Regions from separate parts of the Homo sapiens genome. Here region 1 is linked to region 2. The links come from fine-mapping of genetic effects on gene expression. A gene starts in region 2. The other region holds a variant in brackets. All regions are shown on one strand. Distances are between the middles of the regions. Region 1 overlaps CDH23 (cadherin related 23). Region 2 holds the start of CDH23 (cadherin related 23).

Evidence for each region. PIP is the estimated chance that this variant, and not a neighbour inherited with it, causes the effect.
Region 1: its variant is fine-mapped to the expression of CDH23 in caudate (GTEx, PIP 0.90).

Annotation. Positions count from the first base shown.
Region 1 is chr10:71,596,283-71,600,282 of GRCh38, reverse strand. All of the region lies in intron 9 of CDH23 (cadherin related 23), which reads right to left. Among named protein-coding and RNA genes, the nearest start is that of CDH23-AS1, 86 kb to the right of the region's middle. The variant C/T (reference allele first, on the strand shown) is at 2,361.
Region 2 is chr10:71,394,707-71,399,216 of GRCh38, reverse strand. CDH23 (cadherin related 23) reads right to left here and starts at 2,297. Exons shown (of 70, transcript NM_022124.6): 1 at 1,899-2,297. RefSeq lists an enhancer at 1,494-2,005 and a silencer at 2,689-2,778.

The DNA.
Region 1 (4,000 bases), 200 kb before region 2:
CGCCTGTAATCCCAGCACTTTGGGAGGCCAAGGCAGGTGGATCAACTGAGGTCAGGAGTTTGAGACCAGCCTGGCCAACATGGTAAAACCCTGTCTCTACTAAAAGTACAAAATTAGCCGGGTGTAGTAGCACACATCTGTAATTTTAGCTGCTCGGGAGGCTGAGGCAGGAGATTTGCTTGAACCTGGGAGGCGGAGGTTGCAGTAAGCCGAGATCGCATCATTGCACTCCAGCCTGGGCAACAAGAGTGAAACTCTGTCTCACCAAAAAAAAAAAAAAAAAAAAAAAAAAGGAAAGACATTGAAGGTGTAAATGGGACTATTCCCACAGTTTCCCTCCAGTGGAGTCTCTGAGCATACAAGTTAGATGTGTCAAGTGTCAGAGGTGGAAAATGGAAAGATGCTTAAAGCCTAGCAGGTTCCAACTTTTCCTTCATCCCCTGGAGAAGTGAGAATCAGAGATGAGAAGTAACTTGGTCAACAACACACAGCACGTTAGAAGCAGAACTGGCACCAGATGGGTGGACCAGAAGTCTGGCTCAAGTCTGGACTCCTGTCCAGGCCACAGGTCAGATGTGGCTCTCTGGTCTGCTTTGAGAAGCTTTGGGGACCACACATAAAAGTTTTACTATGGAAAATTTCAAAGAAACACAAATGTAGAGACAAGAGCACAATGAAGCTCTCGGTACCATCACCCAGATGCAACAATCATCAAAATTTTGCCAATCTTATCTTAAAATCACCCCCCACAACACTACCAATTTTTCACGGTGTTAACAGAGGAAATCCCAGTTCATCTTTACATACTGTATGCATCTCTCATAAGGACTTTCAAAAATGCAACAAAACATGCCATTTTCACCCTAAATAAAATAAATGATTCCTCAATGTCACCTAAGACACAGTCCACATTCAAGTCAGGGATGCCATTTTTGAAGCCAACGTCAGGATCAGAGGTTTTTACCTTTTCTGCTCAGCGCTCACAGAACAGGCCTCTGAGATGATTGAAATCAAAGAAAAGGTGCCTTCAACAATAGCTGCAATGTTCCCTTTCTTAAACAAGAACAAAAAGAAGAGCAAAAAAGATCCAAAGCAAATATGGCAAAATGTCAACAAATGTTATCAGGGTGGTGAATACATGGGGGTGTGCTGTGTTGGTTTCTGTACTTTTCTAAATATTTAATATTTCACATTTGCCAGTGAACTTGGCCCTGCTTCTCTGACAAAGGCCAGGGGTCCCGGGCTGGGATGTGGGGTGGAGTGTGGGGTGGGGTGGGTGGTTGGCCATTTCATCCCGGCAGCCTGCCTCCAGAATGCCCTCATCCTCCCAGCTGGAGGCTCAGCCCCAGATGTCATATTATGTCCCAAGCCCTTGGCCCAGTGCCCCACACCAAGTAGGCGTTCAGAGAATGCTTGATGAATGAGCCCAGCCAGATAGGGAGGGATGTCCCAAGACGCTCCCATCCCTTGGCTCACACAGGCAGAAACTTCTGCTGAGCAAGCGAGAAACAGGAAAAAGAGAGACGTCCTTGCCTTTTCGACCAGGGAGGAGGCTCCACAACCCAAATCTTTCCAAAGCCTCTGGCCGCTTTTTTGAAAAAGAGAAGTCACAGGAGCGACTTTTGGGTCTTTCCCACTGGGCCACCCTACAGATGCGTGGCCTGGTGTCCTTCTCAATTACATGGGTTCCTGGCCCTGCCTCCTTCCCCATCAGCTGTTCTGGGTTACAGACCCCTAGTCTGTCGGCAGGAGGGAAGGCAGGCTCTCTGGGAAGTGCTCCAAAGCAGTGGATACCCTATAGCACTCCCACTCCAAACTCTGGGCATAGGCCCTCCTGGAGAGGGCCCGGAGCAAAGGGTCCTGCTACAGACAGATGGCGTCACTTGGGGTGTTTGCAAGCTTGAGACTCAGCACTCATAGAAAAGAGGAAGTAACCTCTTTGCTTGTGGAGGAAGCTCTTGGCACTGCTCCTGGCACCAAGCAGAGCCTCAGAGCCCAAACACTGTCCCCAGCCTAGGCCAGAACAGAGGGCAGCCTTTGATCTTCAGCTCCCTCTACAAACCTCTGCCCAGATGTACTCACTCTCCCTCCCAGCACTAAACCCCAAGCAAGGTCAGCTGTGGCCTCCCCAGCCTACAGGCTCCCGTCGGAAGATGACTTACGGCTTTAATTACGAAAGGCCGGGTGGAGCCTCAGGAAGGAGCCAGCCCCACCATGCTTGGTCCCTGTCGACGTGGAGCTGCCAAGTTGGCAAGGCTGGTACTGGTGCCTGCCTACACATTGCCACACCAACCCCTACTCTCTGTGCTATGGCCAGGCCCTCCCCTCCCTTCCCAGTTGCCCACAGCCTGGGCCTACCC[C/T]GCCTTTGAGGGTGGGGGTGGGGCGGGATCATGGATACAACAGAGTACACACTCTGTTAGAAGAGAGGCTCTGAGGGCGACAGTTTTGTCTGTCCTGTTCATGGCCATATCCCCAGCAGTGAGTACGAGAGGTGCCTGATAAATATTTATGAATTATCAAATAAGTCCAAAGTCCTGTATTGCAAAGGTGGACAATGGTAGCCATTAAACTGTCTAGCAAGCTAAAGGCAGAGCCAATAGACCAGAAGCAACTACCCTGACCCCCAGGGCCACACCTCTCCTTCCTCACTGCTTGGTGGATGAGCTGCCAGGTCCTGCCAATCCCTACTGCCCTCCTGCACTGAAAGGAGCCTCCTTGGGAGGTAGGTTCCAAGGACCACCACAGCAGGCTCTGAGGAGCCCCTGCCCCTGTCCTTGACAGCCCTGTACCTGTGGCAGCTTCAGGGCGGATGAGGTGGGGAGTGGGGAGGGAGAAGTAATGGTGAGGACAGCTGGGGCAGAGTAGCCCCAAGAGCCAGGTGGGAAACAGTCCCTTTCTCAAGCTCTGGGCCTCTGCTTTCTCATCTTGGGGCTTGGAAAGGCTCAACTGGATGATATCCGGGTCCCTGTGGCCTGTGACAGGTGAGGTCCATGAAACCAGCCCCATGTTGGGAGAAAGACGGAGACCAGCTAGGGGACAGAGGAGGTGGCGATGCCTGCTCTGCTCCCCACCCTCCCGGCCCCAGGACTGCCATCGGTTCCTGCCCAGGCCTGGGTTATCAATCTCCTTCCACCTGGAGAACTCCCCTAAATGAAATTCCTGTTGGCGTGGGGCCTATGATATAACAAGTCAGTCACTTTGCCTGGGAAATGAAAGATGATGAGGCAGAGTTCCCAGGACAGAGGCGACCTCCATAAATCTGCCAGAGTGTGCTGGGGATTACTTTGTGGGATTAATTATCTGTCCTTCAAACAAAGACCTGACCTCAGTGGCCCAATGTCCCCAACCTGGGAGGGAGGAAGGGAGTGCCGGGCAGCGGGGAGGTGGGGACCGGGGCTGGGAGGCAGGCCCTGGGGCGGGCTGGGCAAGGGGCATTGTGGAGTGCCAGTTCAGCACTTCACTCCTCCTGTAAGATCCTACGTGCTCCCCCCTGCCCAACACGGCAAGTCCACCTGGCTTCCAGCACTTTCTGCAACTTGGCCCTTTGTGACCTATCCAACAACTTTGTGACCCATTCCCATCTGCTTCTCATGTCTGTCCAGAGCAACCCTACCCTCAGCTCCTCTCCTGGTTACCCCTCATGCTGCCACACTGGAGGGAGAGGGGTCCTGGCGTGGAAGGGAAGGGTCTGTGTACAGTGGACCGAATAAAGGCTGGATCAGGGGCCAGCCAGTATCTATCACTTTACCAACCATATGGCCTTGAGTTTCCTGAGCTCCCTGAGCCTCAGTTTACCCATCTGTGTGATGGAAATAGTAGAGGCAGGGTCTGCACATGACAGGGTTGTCATGACCATCCAATGAGGAGGGTGGTCCCTGAGGACTTCAGACTCATGCAGACCTGGGTTCGAATCCTGGCTCTGCCACTTCTTGGCCTAGCATGACCCTACATGTTATGTTACCTTTCTGAGCCTCAATTTCCTTATCTGTGAAATGGGGAT
Region 2 (4,510 bases):
CCACACTCTGAGGAGCAAGGTTCCGCTACACCTTCACCTCCCAGAAGAATGTGCATTTTAAATGAGCACTTCAGGAAGGTGCCCTTTAAAATACTTGGCTCAAATAAATGAACCTCAAATGGTGAAACTGCAGGTAAGGTAGCTTGTTGAGTGGGGGAGCTATTCCAGAGGCAACCAGGACCATCTGCTATCACAACCCTCAAATCAAGCCCTTTGGTAAGCAGACGTGAGGAGCCCAGCTGTTTAGAGGTGAGGAAGGCCAAGTCTGAGAAGTATATGCGGACCCAGCACAGACGGGGCCAGGATGCTAGCTCTGGGCCTCCCACCCCTCACTGCTGTCCTCCAGCACTCGAGGCAGAGCTTCCTGGTTCACACCAGTGGCTTCTGTGTGCCACCTTCCCAACTCACGGGGGACACCCACCCTCTACCACGAGACACTCTGCCTTCCTGCCCTCCCCAGCCCTGGCAGCCAGAACCAAGCCTTGCTATTCCCCCAGGCAAGGGGCCCCTTCCCAGCTCCTCCTTGGCAGAGTAACATCTAGTGCCCCCACCCCTGTAGGTGCTGACCGCAGTGCGCCTACCCCTGCACCACGAACCAAGCACTAACTCCAAGCCAGCTCTCCCCATCGTGGGCTGACTCATCATCACCATGCAACTGGCCCCAACTAGGTTCTTAAAGCCCGCCCCACCCCACACCCCACAACCTAATTCTTCCCTGTGTGAGGGTCTGACTCCACCCAACACACACACACACACACACACACACACACACACACACACACACACACTCCTGTGTCTCTCTAGCTTATTTCAAAATCCAAATTAGGGTTGGGGCACTTCCCAAGGGGCTGGAAGGCGAGGTCAATGTCAATGCCAGCTCTGGTCTGAGAGGGCAAAGGACGTAGAAAAAGAAGGCTCTGCTTTCTGAATTACTAGGGAGGATGGGGGAGTATTACTACCGAGGAAAGGCTAATTTCCTCCCAGTGGACCGCTGACAGCACTAGGGCTGGGGCTGGGGTCGCAGTGGGGCGGCGGCTGGCATCGGATCTCCGCTCACAGCACGGAGGCAGCCTCTCTAGGTGCCCGCTCCGAGAAAGCCAGGCAGAGTCCCCGCCGGCTGGCGCCGTCACTGCCTTGGAACACGCGGGCTCTGCTCGAGTCCTGGGCTGACCTACGGTGGAGATGAGGGGCAGTGCTCCCGGGTGCCAGCTCCTGGGGGCAGCCAGCACCGCTCGTAGCGGACCAGTTCCAGGGCCAGGAAGGCGAAGCGAGAGCCGCAAAAGGCTCCCGGCTCCTCGAGGGGCGCGTCTTCCCATAGCTGGACCGAATTTGGGAGGATGTGTAAGTCCCCTGGGGTCTCCCGCGGGCACAGGGACTTGATGAGGGGAGGGGAGAACTACGTGCCTTTAGTTCCCCTCAGCGCCTCTGCCCAGCCCGCAGTAGGGGTGCGCCCCACCCCATCCCCACTGTCCAAATGGGGACCCAGGGCTCAGAAGGGGAGGGGATTGGATCCCAACGCGCTCCACTCTCGAAAATCTCTCCACCCCAGACCTGGACCCTCTCCGTAGCGCCGAGAGCAAAGCCCCCAAATGTTCGCGGTCCCAGGACCGGGGATGGGGGATGGGATGCCTGTCCTCCCAAGGCCAACGCGAATGGAATTCGAGTTCCCAGGAATCAAAGTTGCCGCGCGTCGGGGAGCTCGGAGCGGGGCGCGAGGCTAGGGCCAGGGGCCTGGGACCGAAGGATGCCGCGAGCGCCCGCCACGGGCGATGGCCGCGCTGGGAACAAGTGGTTCGGCAGCCGCGGTCACCACCAACTTCCCCGCCGCGCGGCGGGCGAACGGCGAGGGGAAGGAGAGGGAAGCGAGGAGGGAAGAGGCGGTGCGTGGCTCCGGGTACCGTGTGCGTGTGTGCAGCGGCGCCGCGCCTCGCCTCGCCTCGGGCTCTGCTCTCCGCCGGATCGGCCCCCGCGGGCCGCCTGCTCTGGCCCTGGCCACCGCCGCGTCTTCCCGCCGGCGCGAAGGCTCATCCGCGGCGTGCCGGCAGCTCCTGGGTCTCCGCGGGCCGCTCGCCGCTCGCCGCTCGCCGCTCGCAACTTCAGGCGCGCCGGGGGCTCGGACTGGGCGCGCCCCAAACGTCCAGAGGCTCTGCCACCCCGCGCTCCATGCCCAGGCCGGGCTGACTAGCCCCGACCACCTCAGCGTCCGGCCGCCGTCGGACGCGTCCTCTAGCCAAGCATCGCGCCTGCAGCCCGCGTCCCTCTCTCCCGAGCCGCCGCCGCCGCTCAAGTCCGCGATCAACTTTCCCTTGCTTCCCCCGCCCCGCTCGGCCCCCGCCCCGCTCGGCCCCCGCCGTCCAGACCCCGCCTCCCGCAGCTCCCTCCCTCACCTCCCGCCTCGCCCGGCCCCCGCCCGCCCGCCCGCGCTCGGCGCTCCCCCACCCCTCAGGCCGCCAGGACCCCCGAGCTCCCGCCCGGCCCCGCCCGGACCCCCGGGAGCGGCGCCGAGCCCCGCCGGGCGCTCAGGGCATGAATATTTCAGTGCTGGCGAAGCTGCCCTCTGCCGATGTCATGGCACCGGCTGCTGTGGCAACTCTACGAATCCCCCAAAGGGGCAGGGAGGAAGCCCGCGGAAGAGGCCCCAGGTGCGAGACAGAGCAGTGCCCCGCCAGGCCGCCAGCCGTCCCGCAGAGGGGCGCGCAGGGGGATGGGGCCCCCAGCGTCTCGTCCGCCCCGCGCCTCAGGCAGAGCGAGGTAACGCTCCCGGGAAGCCCGGGCGGGCGAGCGGGCGCTCGGCCTAGGTGAGCCCGCGCCATCTGTTGGCTTTAAGCGCCCCCTCTCTGCTCCCAGAGTCGCTGAGCAGTCCCTCTAGTCCTTGGGGCCTCTTGGCCTACGCTTCTCTCCAACCAGCTGCCTTTGCCCACCCGACTCGTGCGCTCCCATCTGCGCCTCCTCCCTCACTAGAGCTCAAGAGGCCTCCAAGTGCTTAGAAATGGAGGACCCCGGGTTGGAGGAGACCCGTGAGGTCACTTAGGCGCCCTCACCCCTGCGGGAGCTCCGTCTGCAGTGCCCGAGTCATGGTCTCCCGGCTCCTTTTTGCACACCTATAGGGACAGAGACTTTATGGCTTTCTGAGACAGCTGGATCAAGAAAGGGTCCATATGCAGGTAATGGAAGAGGTTTATCCCCTACCTTTGATCTTTACTTCCCCGGGGCTAAGCATTCTGATTTTTTAAAACTATTTCTCACATGACAGGATTTCCGAGCTGTCACTGTTCCAGTCAGTACATTGACAGTACCTGCCTGGAGCCAGGCTCTGGGCTGAGACTTTCTGGGCCTCAACTCATTCTATCTTCAATAAAGTCTTTCTGGTGGGCCCTGCCATTATCCCAGTTTTACAGTGAGAAACAGGCTTTAGGAGGTTGGGGACTTGCCCCTGTGGTGGAGTCGGGTATTGAACCCAGAATCTATCTGGTTCCAAAGCTCCAGTTCCTTACCATTCGCTCATTCATTATTCATTCATTCATTCACAGTCACTGCTATGTGCTAGCTAACTGAAATAGTTTCTAGGAATAGGATGGAGAACAAAACAGGCTTGGTCTTTGTGCCCCATGAAGCTTCTCTAGTAGGGGAACCAGACATTCATCAATGAAACACATAAGCAGGTAAAATTACAGCCAGAATCAGTGCTAGGAAGAAGAGTGCTTTAATGGCGCCTGGCCGAGGGGATCAGGGAAGACCTCCTAGAGGAGGTGACTGAGCTGAAGGATGAGCAAGGGAGAGAGAGTGGAGTTTTAGGCAGGAGAAACAGCATGTGCAAAGGCCCCAGGTGCCCACTGCAGGCAACGGCTGGGCCAGGAACAATGGTTTGGTGACCGCAGTCGCAATCAACTTGTGCAAAGGTGGGAAGGAGCTGGCATATGTCAGGAAGTCCAGAAAGGGTGGGGAGAGCTCCGTGCCTCCAGCGTACGAGGAAACGCTCCTGGGAAGCTTGGGAGGGTGAGTGAGCCTGCACCATCTGTTGGCTTTAAGCACCCCCTCTCTGATCCGAGTCACTGAGTGGTCCCTCTAGTCCTTGGCAGTGACTGTAAAGCCACAATGGAGTGGGGGCCAGACTGTGCAGGTGTGTTGGCCTTAATCAGGAGTTGATCTTTATCCTAAGACTGAAAGCTTCAGAGGCCGGGCTTGGTGGCTGACACCTATAATGGCAGCATTTTGGGAGGCTGAGGCAGTAGGATCACTAAGACTCTATCTAAAAAAAAATAAGAGAGAGAGAGAATTGATTGGGAGGCAACAGTTGATGAGAAGAGACTGCTTCAATTAAAAGTATTTATTTGTCAAATACTATGTGCCAAGAAATTTTCTAGACCAGGGGTGAGCACACCGCTACCCAGAGGTCAAATCTGCCTCATCACATGTTTTTGTAAAGAAAGTTTTAGTGGCACACAGACATGGCCTGTTTGGTTGTGTCTCCTTTCACACTACAACTACAGACATAAGGAATTTCAAGAGG